Regions from separate parts of the Homo sapiens genome. Here all the other regions are reported to be linked to region 2. The links are microRNA targets in miRTarBase. Many come from high-throughput screens and were not tested one by one. Region 2 holds a microRNA gene; each other region holds the end of a gene's coding sequence.
Evidence for each region. Region 2 holds the annotated microRNA hsa-miR-2117 (UGUUCUCUUUGCCAAGGACAG, at 2,277-2,297, shown strand). A microRNA usually pairs through its seed, bases 2 to 8, with sites in the 3' UTR of a target mRNA and lowers its output. Matches are read on the target gene's strand: a 7mer-m8 pairs with bases 2 to 8, a 7mer-A1 pairs with bases 2 to 7 and ends in A, and an 8mer does both.

Region 1 (4,044 bases), not on the chromosome of region 2:
CTTCAGGAGTTTATCTAGTTTATTTCCCTAGGTTACATTGGCTAGGAACCTTTTGCAAATGTGTGAAGATTTGTATATAGGTTCAATATTCTCAACCTGTAAAGTCAGAGAACTAAGTTTTAAGCAAGCATTAAAAATATATAGGCTCAGGAGCATGATTTGGATTATTCTCAGCCCCAGAACAAACATGGAAATTAGAAAGCCAGGAATGCAAGGAATACAGATCATTCATAGAAAGAAGGAAGAGAAGGGGGACCCTAATATAGGGCTTAGTTTTTTAAGATGAAGTCTTGCTCTGTCACCTAGGCTGGAGTACAGTGGCGCAGTGACGACTTACTGCAGCCTCAACCTCCCAGGCTGAAGTGATCCCCCTACCTCAGCCTCCCAAGCTGCTGGGACTACAGGCACTCGCCACCACACCCAGCTAATTTTTTTGTTGTCTTTTGTAGAGATGGGGTCTCACCACATTGCCCAGGCTGGTCTCGAACTCCCAGGCCCAAGAGATCCAACCACGACAGCCTCCCAAAGTGCTGGGATTACAGGCTTGAGACACTATGTCTGATGGGGCATTTATTTTTGAAAGCATTCAGATGTACATGAGTCCCTTTGCAGAAAGGCAGTTTGTTGGATATTACTTGTCATGCTAAGGTCCTTTCCTGTCTCCTTCATAGGCAACCCCGTGAAAATCCTTTCCAGAATCTGAAGGTACTCTTGGTATCAGACCAACAGCAGAACTTCCTGGAGCTCTGGTCTGAGATCCTCATGACTGGTGGTGCAGCCTCTGTGAAGCAGCACCATTCAAGTGCCCATAACAAAGGTACCTGAAAGAGTGTGTGTAGTGTCTTTGTTCCAGGGATCTCCTTAGACCTGTAGGTGTTAGGCCTTGTGGTCCAAGGCTCAGGCCTAATAGGTTGACCGTATCCATGTTTCTTAGAGAAGAAAAGTACCACCTTCAAGAGGTGAGTCAACATAAGTGAAGCACTGGACGTATATTTGTTAAATATTTCTACAAGGTCAGCACATAGTGATTATAACTCTGCCTTTGGTCATGATCAGTAGCAGTGTGTTTGACATAATAGGGCTTTGGTTTGTGCAGAGTGGGATGTATTGGTTAGAATCAAATCTCTCTTTCTAATGGAGGGCTAAGTTGAGTGTCCTTTCCTTCTTCACTTTCCCTTGCTCCTTGCAGATATTGCTTTAGGGGTATTTGATGTGGTGGTGACGGACCCCTCATGCCCAGCCTCGGTGCTGAAGTGTGCTGAAGCATTGCAGCTGCCTGTGGTGTCACAAGAGTGGGTGATCCAGTGCCTCATTGTTGGGGAGAGAATTGGATTCAAGCAGCATCCAAAATATAAACACGATTATGTTTCTCACTAAAGATACTTGGTCTTACTGGTTTTATTCCCTGCTATCGTGGAGATTGTGTTTTAACCAGGTTTTAAATGTGTCTTGTGTGTAACTGGATTCCTTGCATGGATCTTGTATATAGTTTTATTTGCTGAACTTTTATGATAAAATAAATGTTGAATCTCTTTGGTTGTAGTAACTGGGATTTCTTCATCTGTTTTTTTGAGCTTAATCTCAGAACAAATGACAAGACATAGTACTTTCTCTGAGTCTTTCAACAGGCTTATTCACTTACGGAGGACAGCTGGCCAAGGAAATTGAAAAGTTAAGAGTGAACTTTATTCTGTGGCATCATTCCCAAAAGGTTATTCCAGGGTGTCTAAAATGCTATGCTTGCAGAAACTCAGTTTAAGGTAGGTGAAGGCCCAGATTAACAGTTGTGCCAAAAGTTGAGTGGAATTGGGCACAGCTCTGTTTCCTGACAGTTAAAAAAGACCTCATGCTCTCTCTCTGAGCTGAGATCACAGCTCACCTGTGGGTACTCCCCAACTCTTAGAGCTAAAGGGAGAACGAAAGGACCAACTGCCATGAAGGGACAGTGACCATAAGCTTGATGGAATGACCTTCCGTAAGATAAACATGGGAAGCACAAGTGAGAACACCTGGAAATGTTACACGTTCTAGTCAAAGACCCAATATTATTATTATTATTATTGTCACAATAGCTGGAAGCAGTTCCTTCCCTTCCTCTGGCATCACTGATCCCTGCATGGCTTCTCATTCTCTAAAGCAGGGGTCAACAAGGTTTTTTTCTGTAAAGGGTCAAAGAGTAAATATTTCAGGCTTTGTGGGCCATTTGATCCATCACAACTACTCGCCTTTGCTGTGAGGGCATGAAAGCAACCATAGACAATGAGTAAACAAATGGGCATGGCTGTGTTTCAGTAAAACTGTACAAAAACAGACAGCAGGCCATAGTTTGCCAGCTCCTGCTCCAGAGACAGCAGTAGAAAGGGTGATCTTTAGTTGATAATAGCAGGGAATAAGTTGTCAGAGCTTCCCAGTGTGTGTAGAATATGTAGTGATGAAAACCAGATGCAGTGACTATAACCTGATGCCAGAACACTGCATTCTTTTTCAGTTTGGAGGGCGTTGTTCAGTGAATATTTCTTTTTACTTACACTGATATGAATATTGATTACCAGTGATGGCTGGGCCATATTAAGATAACTTCAACCCCTATGGTTTGTGTAAGATGGGTAATTGGGCCTGCAATCTTCAGTATTTAAAAATCTAACAACTTGATCTCAATTTTTTCTTAAGGACCTTTTTCTTGGAGAATAATACTTTTTTTTTTTTTTTTTTTTTTTTTGAGACGGAATTTCGCTCTTGTTGCCCGGGCTGGAATGCAATGGCACAATCTCAGCTCACTGCAGCGTCTGCTTCCCAGGTTCAAGCAATTCTCCTGTCTCAGCCTCCTGAGTAGCTGGGATTACAGGCACATGCCACCACACCTGGCTAATTTTTGTATTTTTAGTAGAATCGAGGTTTCATCATGTTGGTCAGGCTGGTCTCAAACTCCTGACTTCAGGTGATCCGCCCGCCTCGGCCTCCCAAAGTGCTGGGATTACAGGTGTGAGCCACCATGCCCGGCCTAAGAAATACTTTTAAGTATATTTTCATTAGCTAGAATTGCCCAATCTGTGTAGGTATAAATTACTTGGTATAGGGAGAGAGAAAGCCTATCTTACCTGTTGCTTTCTTACTTGGTGGTAACATCCAGCAGTTAGTCTATTTATAAACATAATTACTTTTTCACATATGAACCATAAAATATTTAACTTTCTGCTCTATATTGTTTGTTTACCGCTGTATCTCCCACAGCTTGAACAGTACCAAGGTACGTAGTAGGTGCTCAATAAATGACTATTGAATAAATGAACATATCCAACAAATGTTCTCAATGTAAAGGATCAGAGATGCCACATGTTCTCCTTGATGGGAGAGACCCTTCCACATGGGAATGATGGGAAGGAGTTGTACTCCTGGATGTTCAGTAACTGCTTCTAGGAGAAAAGGTAGAGTCCTATCACTAAGCCGCAGATATTTATTTGTGTGTGGCTAGAATGGGATGTTTTGAATCTTCTGTTACAACCTTGGGAACGTGGCTGTTATTTCAATTTATGAGCCAGAAATTTTCACATCCCGAAACTACAAAAGAGAAAAAGAGCCTTATTAAGTGTCATGCTTTCCCAAGACTACCTTCAAAGAAATATGAATCAGGATAACCTGTGATCTAAATAATGTCATCTTAAAACTGAAGAGTTTCTTTTGACTCTTCTGCTACAATAGCTTAGAAAAAAATCTGCTTGCAGACATTTTAGAGAGAAAGGACAATGAAGTGATTTTCTGAATGGGAATGACAGACCTCTGGGAAGCCAGCTACCACTGAATCTCGGTATCAGTTTTTTTTAAAGTTTAGAGTTAGAAGGGGTGGTCGCCTCCTTTCACAGATGCGGAAGCTAGGGACCAGCAAGGCGGGGTGCCCACGGCTGCACAGCTAGTTCATATCAGAATTGGGAGTGGAAGGCCCACTGCCTCCCAGCATAGCAATACATAACCTAGCAAAGGACTTAACACCTATCTCACTGTCAGGTTTTTTAGTATTTTATGATGATGATGACTTCTACTAGAAAA
Region 2 (4,343 bases):
GAAAACATTTATAAATGTTTAGTGAAAATAGCAGAACCCCAGATGGTATACCCTTTGACTATAACCGTGCACACTGAGAGAGAGCATGTAGACAGGGCCAGGAGGTAACATGCAAAACAGGGTAGTTGTGCAGAGGATAGGCTTATAGTTACTTTTTTCTTTGCCAAAATTAAAAACAATTTTACTGTTACATTCTTTTTTCATAATAGGAATGACTAATTCCTGCCCTTCTACCATGCTGGCTTGTTCAGCGGACCAAATGAAAAACTGAGAAAACTGTTGTGTCTTCCCGTAGGATGTTGGAGTGAATCTACCATGCATGACTCATGTTTCCATCCCTATCATCCTGGGTAGGGAAGCACCAAGCTGAGGACTCTGGATCCTTTCAGGCTCTAATGACAATGCACATCCAGCATTTGTGGAGTATGTATACAGTTGTCTGGGCCAACTACTGTGGGAAGAGGAAAAGAAGTCACATTGCTACTGGTCATCAAGAGCTCACAAAATAGATGTAGACATCATTTGGGGCTATCTACTTATCCTAGTGATTCTCAACTGAGGTTGATACTTAAATTTTTTTTTTTCATTTTCTTTTTTTTTTAAGTTTCAAGAGGTTGATACTTTTGATTGTCACAATGATTGGCTTTTGATTGTCACAATGATTGGGAGCGTTATTACCACTCACATATAGTAAATGAAGGATGGGATAGTCCTACACAAAAAATTATCTAGCTCCAAATGTCCTCAGTGTCTCTGATGAGAAACACTGATCTAGTCCATAGTCAGGGCTGCCAGGTATGGGTGTGCAGGTTGCCCACTGTACAACTCTTAAGGGAACCATTCACCTGGTGGCTAAGTGTGTCAATTCTGAAACCATACTGCCTGAGTTCCAGTGCCAACTGGAACTGCCCCCCACCCCCTACTTCTTTTTTTTTTTTTGAGACCGAGTCTTTCTCCACCACCCAGGCTGCAGTCCAGTGGCACAGTCACAGCTCACTGCAGACTCTACCTCCCGGGCTCAAGTGATTCTCCTACCTCAGCCTCTTGAATAGCTGGGACCACAGGCACCACCACCACACCTGGTTACTTTTTAAATTTTTTGTAGAGATAAGGTCTCCCTATGTTGCCCAGGCTGGACTCAAAACTCTGAGGCTCAGGTGATCCTCCTGCCTCGGCCTCCCAAAGTGCTGGGATTACAGGTGTGAGCCACCGGACCTGGCCTGGAAGCTCTTGAACATATTGCTTATCTTCTGTGGACCTCAGTTTCCTCATTTATAAAATGGGAAGAGCAATAGTAATATAACTCATACTGATAACATAAGAATATGTTATCAATAATATATGTTCCTGCACATAGCAGACATTCAATTCATGTTCAATGATTATTATTCTCTGAGATCTGACTTCCCCATTGACTGGGGTGGGGCCCTGGTGTCTACTCCCTGATAAAGACCACGTATGCCTGGATTCCTGCTCTCCCTGAGGCTTAACTTTCCTGGTTCCACCTGTAATCTCATTGAGAACTCCCATTGTTGCCTAAACTTGCTTGAGATGGTTTTTGTAATCTACAACCAGAAGTCTTAATTACTAAGACAAGGTGAAAAGACTCACCTGTAGGAAACACAGTAGATAATACAAAAGGGCTTTCAAGTTAGTGTGAGACTGCTTGGCATAGAAAGACGATAAATGCCACAGACAAAACCTAATCGTAACTGAAATAAATAAATTCGAACAACAAATTGTTAAGTGAATGGAATGCAGCTAGCTAGGATCTCATGCTCTGTTCTAAGAAAACAGACAGGTCAAACAATCAGGACCAGTCCAGACATGTGTCTGGGAAGTTAAAGGAAAGAGACCCTGTCCCTCAAAACCTTCCTTACTAGTGACTCATGTCTTCGTTTACCAGGAGGTCTTCTTTGAAAATATGAATGTTTCTGGGAAGGGTAATCCAGAAACCTACTGAGGCTCACCCTACTAGGAATGTATTTACCATTTTTCTTTTCTTTCATGTCTGTTCATTGAGAACACAGAGAATGTATTTATTCAGTGACTTTCTCTCTCCTCCACTTCCCAACCCCAGCTACAAATGGGGACAGCAAGAGAGAGAAAACCTGGGGAGAACGGAAGAAACCATGCTTTGTAGAATGGATCCTGCTTCAGAATTGCTGATCTCATCAACCACATGTTTATAGAGAGAGCAGTGGCCCTTAAGGAACTGGAGAGAATGCTCTGATTTACTTCTGTCCGGCATGGTGAACAGCAGGATTGGCTGTAGCTGTTCTCTTTGCCAAGGACAGATCTGATCTGATTGCCTTGAGGTGAAAGTGAGGTAAGGTGGGGCGGGGATTAGCTTTTGGCTCCCAAGAATGGTTGTTCATCAACCTTTTGCTAAGCCCGTGGTTCTCAAATTTTGCTGCATGTTAGAATCACCTGGGAAGCTTTAAAAAAACATCTCAGTACCCAGGTTGTACCTCAGACCAATTAAATCTGAATGCCTGGGGGCGGTTGCCAGGCATCAGAAGTTTTCAAAGACCTCCCCCAACCAGGTGGTTCCTGGACATGTACCCACGTCCGGGAACCACTGTCCTCAGCATTTATTGTATGAGGCAACTTAGGTGACACACAACAGGTGAGAACCTGGCTCCTGCCTTTCGGACACAGGACTTAATTTTTTTTTTATTTTTTAAATTATGCAGTAAAATTTTTTCTGTTGGTGTACAGGTCTATGAATTTTTTTATACTGAGTTTTTCATACTGCCTGAGTACAATTTAATGGTATACCATAAAGTATACCATAATTTTATGGTATACCGTAACATTTTACATACCATAATTTTATTTTTATAAAGTATACCCACAATTTTATGGTATACCATAAAACTAGTATAGTATACCACAAAATTTACCCTTTTAAATTATACAATTCAATGCTCACTTCAGCAGCACATATACTAAAATTGGAATGATACAAAGAAAATTAGCATGACCCTTGCTCAAAGATGACACTGTAATTTGTGAAGTGTTCCATATTTAAAAAAAAATTTTTTTTAAAGTGTACAACTCAGCCATATGCAGTGGTTCCCACCTGTAATCCCAGGGTTTTGAGGCCAGGCACGGTGGCTCACGCCTATGATCTCAACACTTTGGGAGGCCGAGGTGGGTAGATCACCTGAGGTCAGGTGTTCAAGACCAGACTGTCCAATATGGTGAAACATCATCTCTACTAAAAATACAAAAACTAGCCGGGCATGGTGGTGTGTGCTTGTAATCCCAGCTACTCGGGAGCCTGAGGCGAGAGAATCGCTTGAACCCAGGAGGCGGAGGTTGCAGTGAGCCAAGATTGTGCCACTGCTCTCCAGCCTGGGTGACAGAGCAAGACTCTGTCTCAAAAAAAAAAAAAAAGGCTGGGTGTGGTGGCTCACACCTGTAATCCCCAGTACTTTGGGAGGCCGAGGCGGGCAGATCACCTGAGGTCAGGATTTCCAGACCAGCCTGACCAACATGGTGAAACCCCATCTCTACTAAAAATACAAAATTAGCCGGGCATGGTGGCGCATGCCTGTAATCCCAGCTGCTCAGGAGGCTGAGGCAGGATAATTGCTTGAACCCGGGAGGTGGAGGTTGCGGTGAGCCAAGATCTCGCCATTGCACTTCAGCCTAGGCAAGAAGAGTGAAGCTCTGTCTCAAAAAAAACAATCCCAGGGTTTTGGGATGCCTAGGCGGAGGCTCACTTGAGGCCAGGAGTTTGAGACCAGCCTGGGCAATGCAGCGAGACCCTGTCTCTACCAATAAATGAATGAATGAATAAATAAATAAATAAATAAATAAATAAATAAATAAATAAATAAAATTAGCTGGGGATGGTGGCAAGTGCCTTTAATCCTAGCTGCTCAGGAGGCTGAGACAGGAGGATTGCTTGAGCCCAAGAGTTTGGGGTTACAGTGAGCTATGATCACGTCACTACACTCTGGCTAGGGTGACAGAGAAAGACCTTGTCTCTAAAAAAGAGAGGAAAACAAGTTACCAAATTATACAATTATCTGTTCAGACCTAGATTTACAAGAAAAAAAATGTAAAATTTCGTGTTTTTAGTATATTTGTAAAGTTGTGCCACCATCACCAGTAATTCCAGAACATTTTTATCTCGTCTCCCCAAAATACCCCGAATCCACAGTAGCTTCTCCCCATTTCCCCTTCCGCCCACCCCCTGGCAAATACGAGCCATAGAGACTCTCTCCCTCTATGGCTTTGCCTACTCTTGATATGTCACATAAATGAAATCACACAATCTGTGGCCTTTTATGTCAAGCTTATTTCACTTAGCATGCTGTTTTCAGGGTTTA
Region 3 (4,343 bases), not on the chromosome of region 2:
TTAATTGCCAAATAAAATAGATCTCTTAAAAATGTAAATCTTAAAGAATATTTTAAAATGACAATCCTAAGTCTTTGGCTTAAAGTATTTGCAACGTACAGTCTAATAAGGGCTTGCTTTTTTGCCTTCTTTTCTTATTTTTAGGGCAAATGAAAGAAATAGTTATATAATAAGTGCAATCACTGGCTTTATAGTCTGCCCACTGCCCCTTTCCTCAAGTGATTTGACTTTTCGGTTTGCTTTGCTTTTACTTTCAGTCACCGCCCCCCTCCCCACCCCGCCCCCAACTTTAGGTGAAGTCTGTGACTTTCACAATAAAACAGTGGTGTTTTGTCCTTCTTTCCTTAAATATCTTGTGCCTTCCCTCCCCCATTCCTTCTTTCTCCCTCCCTTTGTCTTCCTCCTCCTCCTCTTCTTCTTTGTTCTCCTCCTTCTCCTTCTCCTTCTTCTTCTCTCTCTCCCTCTCCCTCTCTTTCCCTCCCTCTCCACCTCCTCTCTCTTTTATCTTCTCTCTATTTTCAGGTTTGCAGCCTCAGGACAAAAGCAAGGATGTGTACTGGTTTTAGACCGCCCACCTTCTTCCCTGTAGGTCTCTGCATAGTGCAATTGATGGCACTCAGAGCTGAAATGGAGTGGGTTTGTAACAGCTTCTGATCTTGGTTTGCAGCTCGTCGTTATTCCCTCTGTGGTGCATCCCTCCTGAGCTGATCTGCTGACCCAGGGTTTCCCCTTCCCCTTCCCTTCTGACCAGCCTTGGAGGCTCAGCATCTGTGCCTCTCACTCCGTGGATGAGGACATGGGGGAAGGCAGAGACTTCAGACTTCTCAGTGTGTTGGGAAAACCAAAAACCACAACTACAGAAATTCATCTAAAAATAAGTCCTGCTGCTGAAAGAGCAAATCCAAAGACTGAGTTATGTTTAATGACTTTTGGCCGAATCACTGGAAATATCTGTGGTGAGATTGCTGAGTCAGGTGATGTGATATCATAAGCTTTCTTGGAACGGGGGAAAGAAAATGAAACTTTTTGGTGTGAATATTTTTTATGCTGATGTGAATTATTTTGTTAGGTAGTGTGATTATAGCACTACTACTGTCAGATTTTAAATTGTATGTGTACTTGCATCTAAGACTGTGGTAGAGAAGTAAAGAGAAGTCAATTCCTTCTTCCTCACCTCTCAGCCTCCAGATCCCTTCCTGCCCATCCCTTCCCTACAATGCCCACTCCAGACGCAAAGATACACTTTTTTCCTTTGGACTGTGAACATGGAAGCCTCAGCCTGAATGTGAGTGGCAAGTGGCTTATCTGGAGCCACCTGCCCAAGTCTTACTAAAATGCAGCTGTTGTTAGACAACTGTTGAAAACTCCAGAAATACATCACCCAAGGTGGCAGTTCTCAGTATTTGGCAGAACAATTGCAATTGCACTGGGTATATTATATATATATATGTATGCATATATATCATATTTTTTACAAGGAACATTTTATGATGAAAGAAGAAACCCTTCTCTGCCTTCTCTCCCACGAATTCTGTCCCTGTATCCTCTGGATGTAAAAAGCAAGGAGAGACCCCAACTGTCTCCATGGAGAAGAACTAGGAATCACCACAAGGGGAAGAAATGTACATGAAGTCTCCATTACCTCGAATTTTTTTCTCAGTCTCACTGGTTGTGATTTGGTCACTTTAGTGTTGGGACAGGGGAAAGGGTCTGTGCGTGGGCAAAGCTGAAGGTGATGAGGAAGAAGAGACGAACATTAAAGATGTCTATTTACTATGAGCTCACTGTGTTGTTTCATAAAAAGAAAATAAATAACTTAGTTTTTTTCTAGTAGAATAAAATAACACAGTAGTATGATTTGATGTCAGTAATATTACATATATATAGATAGATAGATATAGATAGATAGATAGATCTTTCTGTGTTTCCACCGTGTTTGCTGTGCTATGAATCTGTTAGCTGTTTCCATCTCACATCAACCTTGGAGAACGAGAAGTTAGGTACCCCTGTCTGTTTTACAGATGAGAAAATTGTGGCCTACAGAGGCCAAGGGCTTGCCTGTTAACATTCAGAAGTTAGAAGCAAAGATGGTACAAAAAGCACTACCTGGTACAGATTTATTATTTTCCAGAAAAGATTTATTGTTACATGTTTAATTCTAGACTCAAGACAGTAGAGTCATCAGTTAAAAGTGTTTTTGAAATATTGGCTATTTTATATTTTAATAAGCTAGGCTAAGAAACCAAATCTCTCACTAGGCAAAAAAGATTTTTAAGAAAGAAACTGGTAGTTTTTCCCCTTGTTTCCTCTTGATACCAAAGTTATTTCTGTTCTTTCACAAAAGTGCCCAGTAGAGAGATTTTGTGTGCTGCTCAGATTACCCTTGTACCTTGTTAACACATAAAAATATTAGTTCAAATCTTGATCTTCATTATAACATGAGAGGCGAATATAATTTATCTTGGATAAGTCTCAAGAATTGGAAGCAGTTAAGGGATCTAACTCACAGCATGAGCTTGGCAGAGTTCCCCATACCCTCTTTCTGTCATTTGGCTACCTGTGAAGTACATATGATCATTCCAGGAATATGGTTTGCACTCTGATGGAAGGTACTCTATGATTATGTGCATCACATGTGATAACAATAATCATAATCATAACTAATGTTAATTGTTTATCACGTACTGGGCACTGATCTCTATAGATTAACTCATTTAAACCTCACAACAATTCTGTATGCTATTTATTACGATGTTCTCCTTCTTACCTATTAGAAAACTCAGGCACACAGAGGAGAAATTATTTGCCCAGTCATGAAGCTCGTCAGTGGCAGAGTCAGGCTGCAAATCCAGGTAGCCCCCGTGCAGGGCTGCACTGTTATTCGCTGTGTGACTGCTTGTCCAGTTCTGATTTGTCTCTTTGATCTTCAACGTTGGGCTTATTTTCTCCACAATAGATGCATAAAGAAAGGAAAAAAGTCAGAGAAGCACAGATTGATGATGCTTTGGTAGAATTTACAGAAGCCCAAGTCTTAAAGGAACTGTCGTAGGACATTGTCCAAACTCCATCAAATGACACTACTTAGACCATTCAGTCAGGTACAGCTCTCTATTCTTCTCCAGGAGGGAATTATTATTGCTTCTCTTATTCACTTCAGTATTTAACAGCCTTCACCACTCTGAAATTCTTCACACCCAACCTAATCAAGCTGTGTAAGAGTTAGCCTGAGGTTTGGACATTGAAGCAATAACTAAAATTAACTTTGGACTTCTCTGTGGATTGTTTTAATCCATGTTCCACTGGCATGAATCCCTGGTATATTCAAGTGTAAATAAAATGCATTAAGCCCCAGTGTGCTTTTCAGAATTTGCTACTAAATATACTGTTGAAGAAAGCATGGCAGTGCATTCTCTGCTGGACATCTCCACATATTCCCCACCGGAAGAGGTTGTTTACCTGTACCCCACCTGCGTTAACACTCACAAGATCTGTGATCAGAACCCACAGGGAACATTTTCCCACCCACAAGGTTCTGATTACTGAAACTTCTCTCCTAAGCTACATCTGACCTGAATATCAGGTTGCTGGTAAGGAGACTCATTCACTGGAATTGGCCTTTGGGGCGGTCCTGAACAGACCGTCCAGACTGCTGAGCCAGTCCAGGCTCCAGCGACCTGGCACGTATGACACGCGAACCACAGCGTTTCCCTCCATTCCACACCTTCCTAAGGTAGAAATGCAAGATGACCTAGATCCATAATGATTTGGTTCTGTGTAATAAGAGCATCAAAGAGAACTTTGGAGAAATGGTAGCCCCAACTGACATTCTGCAGGCTTACTTCAAGTCACACAAAATATGAACTCTCATACCTGTCTTGCTAATAGTAGTCAAACCATGCAGATTTGAAAAGATTCTAGCAGTTGAAAAAAGGACATCAAGGAAATGTGGGATGGCATGAGGAAAGGCAAACATGACATTTTTACATATGTTATACCTGGTCAGGGGGCTCAGAGAAAGGTTACATTCTCCTCTAATCACCCCCATTGGCACTAGTGTCCTCTTTGCCCACGGCTTTCCCTTTGCACTTGGCCTAGGTTGAAGGAGAGGTGATGAAAAGGAAAGAGACGGCTCTCCACCACCAAGTAATCCTTTTGCCGATTGCACTCTGGCTGAGAATTCGGTCACCCAGCTACAGGGAATTCTATCTGTTCTATTCCTTCAGTGTAAAAAGAGTTGCCATCCCGTCTCATTTCCCCTTTGAAGTTCTATTTAAATGCATGGCAAATTCTAGCAATATCTTAAGATTGATTTGGGTCTGGATGGGAGATGGTGGGTGTTGAGA

Region 1: the mRNA of TUBGCP4 is a reported target of hsa-miR-2117. Seed matches in the 3' UTR shown: 7mer-A1 at 3,335-3,341 and 7mer-A1 at 3,303-3,309.
Region 3: miRTarBase lists VGLL2 as a target of hsa-miR-2117. The part of its 3' UTR that is shown has no 7-base or 8-base seed match.

What each region holds. Positions count from the first base shown.
Region 1 is chr15:43,404,716-43,408,759 of GRCh38, reverse strand. TUBGCP4 (tubulin gamma complex component 4) reads right to left here. Exons shown (of 18, transcript NM_014444.5): 18 at 1-3,558. The coding sequence ends at 3,546. It overlaps TP53BP1 (tumor protein p53 binding protein 1), which reads left to right. Exons shown (of 28, transcript NM_001141980.3): 27 at 672-817; 28 at 1,190-4,044. The coding sequence ends at 1,377. Among named protein-coding and RNA genes, the nearest start is that of TUBGCP4, 36 kb to the right of the region's middle.
Region 2 is chr17:43,442,580-43,446,922 of GRCh38, forward strand. It overlaps MIR2117 (microRNA 2117), which reads left to right and starts at 2,227; the gene lies at 2,227-2,306. MIR2117HG (MIR2117 host gene) reads left to right here and starts at 2,128. Exons shown (of 2, transcript NR_146952.1): 1 at 2,128-2,329. It also overlaps the pseudogene RNU6-406P.
Region 3 is chr6:117,271,787-117,276,129 of GRCh38, forward strand. It overlaps VGLL2 (vestigial like family member 2), which reads left to right. Exons shown (of 4, transcript NM_182645.3): 4 at 668-1,779. The coding sequence ends at 708. Among named protein-coding and RNA genes, the nearest start is that of VGLL2, 8.4 kb to the left of the region's middle.